3 linked regions of the Homo sapiens genome follow. The protein of the gene in region 1 purifies or fractionates together with the protein of each later gene. This does not show direct contact. Each region holds a gene or a part of one and is shown in the gene's direction. Other genes may lie near its edges. The genes, in order: PSMA4, PSME4 and GARS1.

Evidence for each region.
Region 2: the proteins of PSMA4 (region 1) and PSME4 purify together in Homo sapiens (affinity purification with mass spectrometry; 4 studies listed by BioGRID and IntAct, with this or other methods). This does not show direct contact.
Region 3: the proteins of PSMA4 (region 1) and GARS1 purify together in Homo sapiens (affinity purification with mass spectrometry; 2 studies listed by BioGRID, with this or other methods). This does not show direct contact.

Annotation. Positions count from the first base shown.
Region 1 is NC_000015.10:78,538,605-78,542,353, forward strand, and holds the start of PSMA4 (proteasome subunit alpha type-4), read left to right. Parts: upstream 1-1,839; 5' UTR 1,840-1,935; intron 1,936-2,181; exon of another isoform or gene 2,182-2,231; intron 2,232-3,300; 5' UTR 3,301-3,323; coding exon 3,324-3,326; intron 3,327-3,572; coding exon 3,573-3,615; intron 3,616-3,749. UniProt on the Homo sapiens protein: Component of the 20S core proteasome complex involved in the proteolytic degradation of most intracellular proteins. This complex plays numerous essential roles within the cell by associating with different regulatory particles.
Region 2 is NC_000002.12:53,964,323-53,968,071, reverse strand, and holds part of PSME4 (proteasome activator complex subunit 4), read left to right. Parts: intron 1-3,749. UniProt on the Homo sapiens protein: Associated component of the proteasome that specifically recognizes acetylated histones and promotes ATP- and ubiquitin-independent degradation of core histones during spermatogenesis and DNA damage response.
Region 3 is NC_000007.14:30,593,214-30,596,962, forward strand, and holds the start of GARS1 (glycine--tRNA ligase isoform 1 precursor), read left to right. Parts: upstream 1-1,664; 5' UTR 1,665-1,708; coding exon 1,709-1,930; intron 1,931-3,749. UniProt on the Homo sapiens protein: Catalyzes the ATP-dependent ligation of glycine to the 3'-end of its cognate tRNA, via the formation of an aminoacyl-adenylate intermediate (Gly-AMP).

The DNA of each region.
Region 1 (3,749 bases):
AATAAGGGGACACAGAACCTCTCAGTGGGAACCATCTGTGGCACATTGTAAGAGGAACATGTGGGATGAGAGATGTTGAGGGTTCATCATCCTAAAACATCACTTTAATCCTGTCTTCCCATTACTGACCAAAACAAATTCTGGCATTAAAGGCACTCTACACTTAGGCCTCAAATGCCTTTCCTTACTTCCTGTATTATCTCCTCCATTCAGATCAGACCGAACTACTCAGTCACCCACACTTGTCAGACTCATTCTTCTCTTGCCCTTTTTCTCAAGGAATCCCTCTCTTGACCTGAGAAATTCTACCTCTCACTTAAAAGTGACTGTTCACTGAATTCCGCAGAATGAACTAAGGTGGCAGGCAGGGGCCCTCAGAGATGCCATAAGTTACACCACCTGAGGATGCTTTCAGAGCACCACCTGCGTGTGGCTCTTTGCCATCTTGCCTTGGCTCACTTCCCTGTGTGCTTGGAAAGTAGAGACGATAGGCGAGACCTCAAAATGTAACTTACTTCCAAGCTATCTCCTTTTCAAAGCCCAGATCCCCCAATAATTTTGCAACCAACATGAAGAGGAGTTTCTGCCCAGTGGGCTGCTTTTTGGGAGAGACTGTGAGCAGATGACTTCATATTAACCCAGATCTAGTCAACCTTCTAGCCTGAAAAAACCTAAAATGCATAGTAGATAGTTTACATACGGACCGAGGCTGAATGAGCAAAAAGGTGGAGAGATGGATAATGAACACAGAAACAAGTATGACAATTTCAGTAAAGAAGATAAAATGGTGCGAGTATATGCTGACGGTAGGGTATTGCTTTAACTGTGCTGGTCAGGGAAATCCTTTCTGACTGGTGAAAAGCAGAGAAAGAGACCAAGGTGAAAATTCCCCCAAAAGTGTGAACCTGATCATAATTTTTTTTAATTTAATTTTTAGAGCCAGTGTCTTTCTCTGTCACCCAGGCTGGAGTGCAGTGGTGCGATCATAGCTCACTGCAGCCTCCAAACTCCTAGCCTCAAGCCATCCTCCTGCCTCAGCCTCCCAAAGCGGTGTAATTACAAGCATGAGTCACCATGCTCGACCCTCATCATAATTTTTTTTTTTTTGAGATGGAGTCTCAGGCTGGAGTGAAGTGGCGCACTCTCGGCTCACTGCAACCTCCGCCTCCCGAGTTCAAGCGATTCTCGTGCCTCAGCCTCCCAAGTAGCTGGGATTACAGGCGTGCACCACACACCCGGCTAATTTTTGTTAATTTTAGTAGAGACGGTTTCACCATGTTGGCCAAGCTGGTCTCGAACTCCCGACCTCAGGTGATCCACCCGCCTCGACCTCCCAAGGTGCTGGGATTACAGGCATGAGCCACCCGGCCTTCCTCATCATAATGTGTATGTCCAAAATGTATGCATCAGCAGTAAAAGTGAAAGCCAGAATGAAAAAGGAAGGTGATGAGAGGGGTAAAGTCTCATGTGGTTGGAACCATTTTGGGAAACAGGACAGGAATGATAGCAATTAAGAAGCCGGTCCACACTATTTGCTATCCTAGGTCTGAATAGTGAAGAGAAAATGAAAGGAGAGCGCCAAGGGTAAGAGAAAGAAATTAGCTATTCCACCTCCTGGTTGGCTACTGTCTTCCTGCCCTCTTCCCCATGGCACAGCAACTCCTCCACCTGCTGAGGACCCTAGCCTAAGCTGCAGCGCCCCAGAGCCTCAGCACCCCCGCGACCCAGCTCCCACGAGGGGCACGGGTTCTAGCTCCGCCCCGCAAGAAGGACTTCCGCGTCCTCGGCCGTCCCGCTCCCCCCGCCCCAACCCAGCGGTTCTGCGCATGCGCGGGGGCCATATTAGCAGCGGTTATTCGGTGAGCGGTGGTGGTTTATTCTTCCGTGGAGTTAAGGGCTCCGTGGACATCTCAGGTCTTCAGGGTCTTCCATCTGGTGAGCCTTTGGCCCCTTGGGGCCCGCGGAAGCTTGGCCGCTTTCCCATTGGGCGGGGGTCGTGAACGTCAAGACAGTCGGTCCCGGCCTGCAGTTGCCGCCGAGGAGCCGTGGGCACGATGACTCTGCACCGCCTCCTCTGTGACGGACCGACCGCCGGGAATGGCCCCCGCCGGCCGCCGTCGGGGGCTTCCCAGTGCCAAGCCTGGACGCCGGGGCCCGCGAGGGGGCGGGCTGAGGGTGGGGGTCTGTGGGCAGGACCGAGAGTTGGGGTGGCTTCCGTCCTCAGGAGTTCGGTACGTGAAAGTTAGCTCTCCCGGAGGTGCCGGTGAACTCAAAATAGTGCTGTGCCCGGCGTCAGGCGTGGAGACAACAGAAAGTTGTGCTTAAAGCTCGAATCAGAAATCCCCGGCGAGTGTCTCTGTGTCCTCCCTGCTTCTCTGCTCTGTGCCATCCTTACTTTGCACCATTCCTATTGCAATTACCTCAACCAGTTCGCTGCCCTCGGTCTCTCACCAGCCAGAGTGATCATTTAAAATGCCAATCAGTTCCTGTGGGCCTTGGGAATCATTCAGAGGAGCCCCATTGGCTGAGAGATAAAATTCTGTTTTTACCTGGGCACGCGGGCTCTCCAGGATTTGATTCCAGCTTACCTTTCCAGTCTTGATTCCCTATATTCCAGTATTTGGAAATGTGGGCCTTGGACTGAGGCTTTACCAAATAACGCTGAACACCTAGTATTGCCTTTTGCACGAATGGTACTGATGGTGCCCAAGATAACTGCCTCCACCCCCAAGTTCAGGACCCAGATCACTCTCTGGAGAAGGCCTCAGCCTCTTGCCTTGGCTTTCAAGGCTCTGCGTGATTTGGATACTCGCTTAGCTCTTATTTATATATATTTTAAAAGCATCAGCAGTTTATCTCATGCCCACTAAACTATCCTGCCTCCGTACCCTTTGTTCATACTTTCTGCTCTGTGTGGAATGCCCTTCTTTCTTCCCCTGTTCTTTCTCTTAGACCCAAGGGTTCTCAGCCTTATTTCTGCCTCTCCCATCTCTGATTTACTTTCATTTTCTGTATCGATTTCTCAAAAAATACTTTCTTGATTCTTTCATCATCCCTTTTCCCACCCTACCCCCGGTTCCTCTTTCCACATTATAATCTATGACTGCCTCTCTCACCTAACTGCCAGTATTAGCTTTTCAGGACAGGAACTGGTTTTACACATTTTGGTATTCCAGCATCTAGCATAATGCCTGACACTTAGCTGAATAAAGGGAGTAAATAAAACAGATTTGTAAAGTCAGCAAATGCTTTTTAATTTGTGAATCTTATTTTAATGATGATCTGATTTTCTTTTTACAGGAACTATATAAAGTTCAGAAAACATGGTGAGTTAATACACATGCCAATAAACGGTTGCCTGATAAACAGTATTGCTTGTACTCAGTTTACAGACTTGAGTGGGAAAATTGAAATAGAAGGAAAGCAGTGAGAAGGTGCCTTTTTTCTTGTCAGTTTCCTCTCACCTATTGAACTTTGTATACCAGGATAGGTTTTGTAAGATCATTTGTAGGCTTGCAGGAGTTGGCCTACTTTCAGTGGGTAGGAATCACTCATGTGTTTTTCCTTTGCAGTCTCGAAGATATGACTCCAGGACCACTATATTTTCTCCAGAAGGTAAAATAGAAATTGTTTAATCTGCCTCAAGTTTAAAAATAAATGTGTTAGACTTTTAGAAAAAAAAATTACAAACTTTTTTTGGTAGTTGCAAAGTTCATCCTTTTTGTACTTTGAAGCAATTATCATCACCA
Region 2 (3,749 bases), on another chromosome or scaffold:
TGAACTCCTGACCTCAAGCAATCTGCCCACCTCGGCCTCCCAAGGTGCTGGGATTACATGTGTGAGCCACCGCACCCGGCCTGGACTAAATTCTTGAGAAGCATTTCTACTCTGGTATTCTGCAGTTTTATTTTTTTAATCCTGTCAAGCTTCACATCAGTCATTGTGTGTATCTTTCTACAAGAACTGTTTGAATAATTTGTAAAATACTGGAAACAGTTGCATAGATCAAGTACATTCCTAAAGACCAAAGTGTAAATGCAGTTGAGAGTTAGTGGGACTATCTTGCTGATCAGAAATGTGCACCCGTAATCTGGACATCAGAGGTGTGTTTGGGACCAAGTTCTGGTTTGGAAGGTTCTCAGGCTTTACATTTGGTCCCTCTTTTTGACTTTTTTTTTTTTTTTTTTTTTTTTTTTTTTGAGACAATCTCACTCTGTTGCCCAGACACAAGATAGTGTAGTGGCACTATCGTGGCTCACTGCAACCTCCACCTCCACCTCCCTGGTTCAAACGATTCTCCTGCCTCAGCCTCCTGAGTAGCTGGGATTACAGTTGTGCGCTGCCACGCCTGGCTAATTTTTGTATTTTTAGTAGAGACGGGGTTTCACCATTTTGGCAAGGCTGGTCTCGAACCCAGGTGATCTGTGTGCCTCGGCCTCCCAAAGTGCGGGATTACAGGCTGAGCCACCGCCCCAGCCTTCTTTTTGACTTTTTTCTTCATTTTTAGTAGTTCAGTCCATTTAGAAACTTGCAGGTCTGTTTAACATCTCTGAAGAAAGGTTATTTCTATATTTTTAAATACTTGGCCATGTGATAGAGGCTTTCCTGTACAGACAATTTAAAGTACTAGAACTGTCTGGTCAAGAGAGGTTGTGTGATGTAACACATCACAAGGGAAATTTTTAATAAGGGAAGAAACAAATCAGAGAAGTTGAAACAAATTAGAGAAAGTAGGAACAAATTAATGGTCTTTGGACAATGGCAGACAGCTCATGGACACTGTGAGTGAAATATTGGTAGATAACTTGTATGGCCCATGTAGAGAATGAAGGGAGTTGAAGAAAGGTATTCTTAAAACTTGATTTTGTTATGCCTGTAATCCCAGCACTTTGGGAGGCCGAGGCAGACGGATCACGAGGTCAGGAGTTCGAGACCAGCCTGACCAACATGGTGAAACCCCATCTCTACTAAAATTAAGAAAATTAGCCTGGCATGGTGGTGCACGCCTTTAATCCCAGCTACTCAGGAGGCTGAGGCAGGAGAATCGCTTGAATCTGGGAGGTGGAGGTTGCAGTGAGCCAAGCGCCACTCCAGCCTCGGCAAAAGAGCGAGACTCCATCTTAAAAACAACAACAAAGAAAAAAACCCCAAAAAACTTGATTTTGCCCTCTTGCCTTTCTGGACCTTTCATGAGGGGCTGCGGGTGCTCGTTAGAACACCTCAGGTTATCTGTACGTGAGGTGTATCTGGCCTTGCCTCCAACATTATTATCTTTTTTTTTTTTTGGAGACAGAGTAGCTGGGATTATAGGCATGTGCCACGACGCCTGGCTAATTTTTTTGTATTTTTAGTAGAGACAGGGTTTCCCCATGTTGGCCAGGCCAGTCTCAAACTCTTGATCTCAAATGATCTGGCCACCCCGGCCTCCCAAAGTGTTCGGATTATGGGCGTGAGCCACCGTGGCCTGCCTAACATTATTATCCTGGCAAGATTTTAGATTATTAGTGGTTTTTCAAACTTTAAATTAAGTAGTGGAGTGTTTTATTTTTTATTTTTATATTTTTTGAGACAGAGTCTCGCTCTGTCATCCAGGCTGGAGTGCAGTGGCACAATGTCGGCTCACTGCAGCCTCTGCCTCCCAGGTTCAAGCAACCCTCATGTCTCTGCCTCCAAGTAGCTGGGATTACAGGTGAGTACCACCACACTTGACCAATATTTGTATTTTTATTAGAGAGGGGGTTTTGCCATGTTGCCCAGGCTGTCTCAAACTCCTGGCCCCAAATGATCCGCCCAAGATCTCGGCCTCCCAAGGTGCTGGGATTACAGGCGTGAGTCACCATGTAGTGCCAGTAGTGGAGTGTTAAAAAACCAAATTTTGGCTGGGCGTGGCGGCTCACGCCTGTAATCCCAGTACTTTGGGAGGCTGAAGCAGGTGGATCACAAGGTCAGGAGTTCGAGACCAGCCTCACCAACATGGTGAAACCCCGTCTCTGCTGAAAATACAAAAAAAAGTTAGCCGGGCATGATGGCGGGTGCCTGTAGTCCCAGCTACTCGGGGGGCTGAGGCAGAAGAATTGCTTGAACCCGGAAGGCAGAGGCTGGCTGCAGTGAGCTGCGATTGCACCATTGCACTCCAGCCTGGGCGACAGAGCGAGACTCTGACTCAAAAAAAAAAAAACAAAAAAACACACAACCAAAATTTTAAACTTGAAATTGGATTCCTCAGGCAAATTAAAACCCCACTCATTAAAAAAAAAAATACTTCCTTGATAGTAGAACTCTTGAAACCTCCTCAGGGCTCCACAACATACTGCTGGAAAAATCACTTGGATGCGCTGGGTGTGGCGGCTCACGCCTGTAATCCCTGCACTTTGGGAGGCTGAGATTACTTGAGGTCAGGAGTTCCTTGGCCAACATGGTGAAACCCTGTCTCTACTAAAAATACAAAATTTAGGCTGGTATGGTGGCACTCGCCTATAGACTGAGGCAGAAGAATCGCTTGAACCTGGGAGGCAGAGGCTACAGTGAGCCGAGATGGCGCCACTGCACTCCAGGCTAGGCGACAGAGGGAGACTCTTGTCTTACAAAAAAAAAAAAAAAAATCACTTGGCCTTTCTAGTTCTTTGTTCCTTTTAAACTGGTAAACTGGTCTGGAGGAAAGGGCGGGAAAAGGATGGAGAATAAGCGAATGGATTACTGTTTCCTACAACTTATCCCATCCATGATTCGTGTGTGTGTGTGTGTGTCTGTGTGTGTGTGTGTTTAAACAGAATTTTGATTTTAGTGAAGTATGTGGGTTTGGTGTAAGATGAAGCAAATTTAGATTCCCTGTTTGCTACAGTGACATGTTTTGTATTGTTTTATGATTAAGTGACTATATTATAATGTGAAGTCATTTTAATTGCTAATTAAAACTGTGGCACCCTTTAGAATTGAAAGTACAGTTGTTTTATTATTACAAATATTATGCAGCCTTCGTGGATTGATTATCCCAGTTGAAACCACATAATGTATTTGATTAGATTATGTAACCACCAGAAACTTAGGTGTAGTCAAGGTATGAGTTATCAAATACACAAACCTTCTCTTGTGGAAAGTAATAAGTGGCCACAGGAGCACCCACATTCATATCATCCCCGTGTTGGGAAAGAAAGGAAATGCTAACTGCTGAATCTGCATTGTCTGGTATGAGGCACCTAAGAGTATCTAATGTTTGAGTATTGAAATTGAAGTACACAATAAATGCAAGTGGTTTTATTTGTAAATGAATCTTGAAATCTTGACAAGTTACCAAACTCATCAGTGAGAACCAGTTAGAGAGAGTGATAGAAGAGGTTTTACTTTGTTGTTAAGTGATCATTCAAAATGGGAACCAAAATTTCTTTGTAGTGAGAAAGTTGATTTTCCATAAGGGGAAAAAAAAGGAACTGATTTTGGAGAACATGAATTTCTTTGATAAAGTTGTATAATGTAATAGCACAATAAGACATATTTCATATTTGATTTTTTCAAAAATTTTATTTCTG
Region 3 (3,749 bases), on another chromosome or scaffold:
GCCTGTAATCCCAGCTACTCAGGAGGCTGAGGCAGGAGAATCGCCTGAACCCGGGAGGCGGAGGTTGCAGTGAGCCAAGATCACGCCACTGCACTCCAGCCTGGGTGAAAGAGCGAGACTCCGTCTGGAAAAAAAAAGAAAAAGAAAAAAGAAAGAAAGAATGACTGAAGCAGCAGTGGGGAGGATGAATTGGTCGGGGAGGAGGGAAGAACGGATTTGGAGTCCTTTCAGGACTGTCCTAACATGAAAATGGATGAGACATTATTGATCTAAGGAATTTTTTAGAAATAAAATAGTTTTATTCAAAGGATATAGAATTTCAACATTTTAATAAAAATCTAAATAAAAATAAAAGTAAAACTTAAAATGATTTTTCACATTTAAAGATATTAAAATAAATTCAAAATTGCCTAGTAAAATAAAAGCCAAATAAATTATAATTAATATCAAATCTTGAAATAAAAGTGTTTAAAAATATAATTGTTCAATATTGCAGAAGGTTCTTAAGCAACCCACCCTGCTCATGTTGAATTGTAAGTACTTCTCCAGAACTGCACACTGGAACGGGAAGAGAAATAACATGGACTTTCACACCATTAGGAAAGGAGACTTCATTATACTGAGCCCGTCTACTCCTGCACACTCCTGGGGTGGGATTGTGGGTCACAGGGAGACGTACGTGCATACTGCCGAAGAGCTCCCAAGTGGCTGGCTGCACCAGTTAACACTCCCCTGAGCAGTGTAGGGGAGTCTCAGAGGGTCACTTGGCATTTTCCATCATTTTCATTTTAGCCATTTTTGCAGGTGTGCGCAATGCTGTTTTTATAACCAACACATCATTTTTCTCTTCCTTTCCTGGAGGGGGAACCCAGCTTTTCTAGGCCCTCCACCCTTTGGGCAGGAGGAACTGGGTGTGTGGGGCGGGGGGAAGCCATCTCTGGGTGGTTGGTCAGCTGGGGCCTAACCACAGGAGGCAGATAGACTGAGGCTATGCCAAGCAGAAAGACTTATCAGGCACCTCTTGCCTTTCCTCATCTCTGCCGGTTCAAATCCTGCTCGCCCCGCAAGGGCAGATTGGAATTTACCTTCTCCAGAAAGCCTGGGGTGACTCTATCCCCTCACTCCTCCTCCCCCGTTCGCCAGCTTTTGTCTTGACATCGGCGGACCAAGAATGTGTGACTCTGGGCAAATCATTAACCTCTCTGGGCCTATTTCCTTATCTGGGGAACATCTGCACTTGAGCAACAGAAGTCTAAGATCCCTATCTGATTTGATGTTTTGCGACCCTTTTAAGGCGCAGGGCGCGAAAGAACAGAAACAGAAGTGTCCGTTCAAGTAGGTCGGCCGGGGTGTCACTCGTATAAAAACCTATGCTTTGAAGGTTCTCGTGTGTCTCGGCCTGCAGGTCTCGCTCAGAGCTGTGTCCCTGAACATCCACCCTGCTGGGGTGGCTTGACGCACTTCTGTGCAAATCTGTTCGCTCGCAACCCTACCTACCTCTCTCCCGAACCGGAGAAAACCTTCGGCGGGGTCCTTCCGGGTTTTGTGTCGAATCTGCGGCGGCGACCCGGCGCCGCGTCACGCGGTGGTGAATGTGCGGCAGCACGCGCGCCGCGTCGTTTACGCGGCGATTTCATCATGCTCCGAGCCGGGCGGCGCGCGCCGCTTCCGTCGCCACCCTCTCTGGACAGCCCAGGGCCGCAGGCTCATGCCCTCTCCGCGTCCAGTGCTGCTTAGAGGTGCTCGCGCCGCTCTGCTGCTGCTGCTGCCGCCCCGGCTCTTAGCCCGACCCTCGCTCCTGCTCCGCCGGTCCCTCAGCGCGGCCTCCTGCCCCCCGATCTCCTTGCCCGCCGCCGCCTCCCGGAGCAGCATGGACGGCGCGGGGGCTGAGGAGGTGCTGGCACCTCTGAGGCTAGCAGTGCGCCAGCAGGTACCGGTGTTTTGCGCTCTCCGCTAAGCCTCCGGCTCTCCTCCCAGGGCCTTCTTCTGGTCATCCTTCCCTCCTCCCCGGGGAACTGTCCTCCTCTTCGGTTACCCCTTTCTTTCCCTTCATCCTCTGGCGTCTTCTTCGCCTCCCCCACTTTGGTCCCAAGTCCCCCGTGCGTCAGCCACCTCCTCTCCCGCGGACCTCCGTCCTCCTCTCTTTTTGGATGACTCCCTGGAACCCCTCCGACTTCCTGCGTCCCTCTCCGGCTCCGTTCTCCCTTCCCCATTCTGTCACAGCCCGCGTCTCCTCTATTTCCAGTGGGGCTGGGATCTGTGACCCTTTGGTTGTCCTCGCCTCCTAACTGAATAACCTTAACTTCAGTTTTCCAGGCTCTGCTGTACTCTTTGTGCACCCTGGGTGGAAAGCCTCCTAATTCTTTCAGTGGTCAATGATGAGCCGAAAAACTGCCGGTTCTTTCGTCTTACGGCCAGGCCCTTTAATCTTTAGGATGCTTTGATAGTGTTTCCCCCTTAACATCTTCCTTCATTCAGTGCTTAGTTTAGCGGAATGATTGGCTGAGAAAATAGAATTGAAATGTGGATGTGGGGAGGTGTCGAACTTTTCTATTAATGCTGTGAACTCATCATCCTTTGCTCTTGTCATCTTTTCTGGCTTCTGAAAAGGCCGTTTGGAACCAGTGAGCCCTCAGATCGTAAACCTGGGAAACTAAGTGTTGCGGAGTGAAGTCAGCCATCCTTAGTATGGAATATTTTGACATTTGATTTTCCCGAAGGTGAGGGAAGGTTTCATGGGCTGAAGGACTTGGTGATTTAATATAGACCTCCTTTTCCTAGGGCACTGCCATAGAGTTTAGAATTTAGAGATATCAAGGAAAAGATTATTTCAGATGATTCCCATATGCAATTAGGGAGAGCCAGAGCTTGCAGTAGGACCCCGGAGATCATGACTTAGTAGTAAACACCAAACGGGTTTCTCCTGCATGGGCGCCTGATGCAATAATTTGCCTTAGCTACAGAGGGTGGAACCCTATCTCGGAAATAATTCATTGGGGCATAGCTGCCGCAAATTCAGCCACTTTGCCATCTGTCCTCTTCGCTGGTTTGAGCCTGACCGATTTTAATAAATAGCCTTTCATTTTGAAATATCACCACGGGCTTAACTTTTTTCTTCATGATTGGTGTCAGAACACCGATTGCATATTCTGTCTCCCTCCACCCACCTTCCACTCCACAAATAAAATTAGGTGTGGTTCCTTTGTCTTTTCTTAACTTGCCATTTTAAAAAATATCCTTCCCTTTAGAAGGAAGCATACAACTAATTTGGAGAAAAAAAAAAACCACCACACCCAAACCCCTCCCTCTGCCACGTTAGCCTGGAACTGCAGTGAAAATCATCCATCGGTAGTTAAGACAGGATCTAGTTAACTAAAGTAAACTTTGATCGCGGCAGCTTTCCGATGCTACTAACTACTGTCTTGTGTATTGTTTATGTTGTCTTGATTATTGTTTTGTACTTTAAGATATTTTCCGAATATACGAGTTAGTTGATTTAAGTTAGTTTGGATATTTTTTTCTAATTTTCCAAGAACACACATATATCAGTTAGTTAATTGTGTGAATTACTGAGTCCTATGTCAGCTGAAAAATAATTTAAAGATGATCTAATTTTACCCATTTTTTGTATATGGGGAAATGAGACACACTGTCACCCCTATCCATTTTGGATAACTCCATTGTGAAGTGCAATTGAAAACCTTTCCGGAGTGGGATTTTTACTTAATGACTGGTCTTGTTAGTAGCAC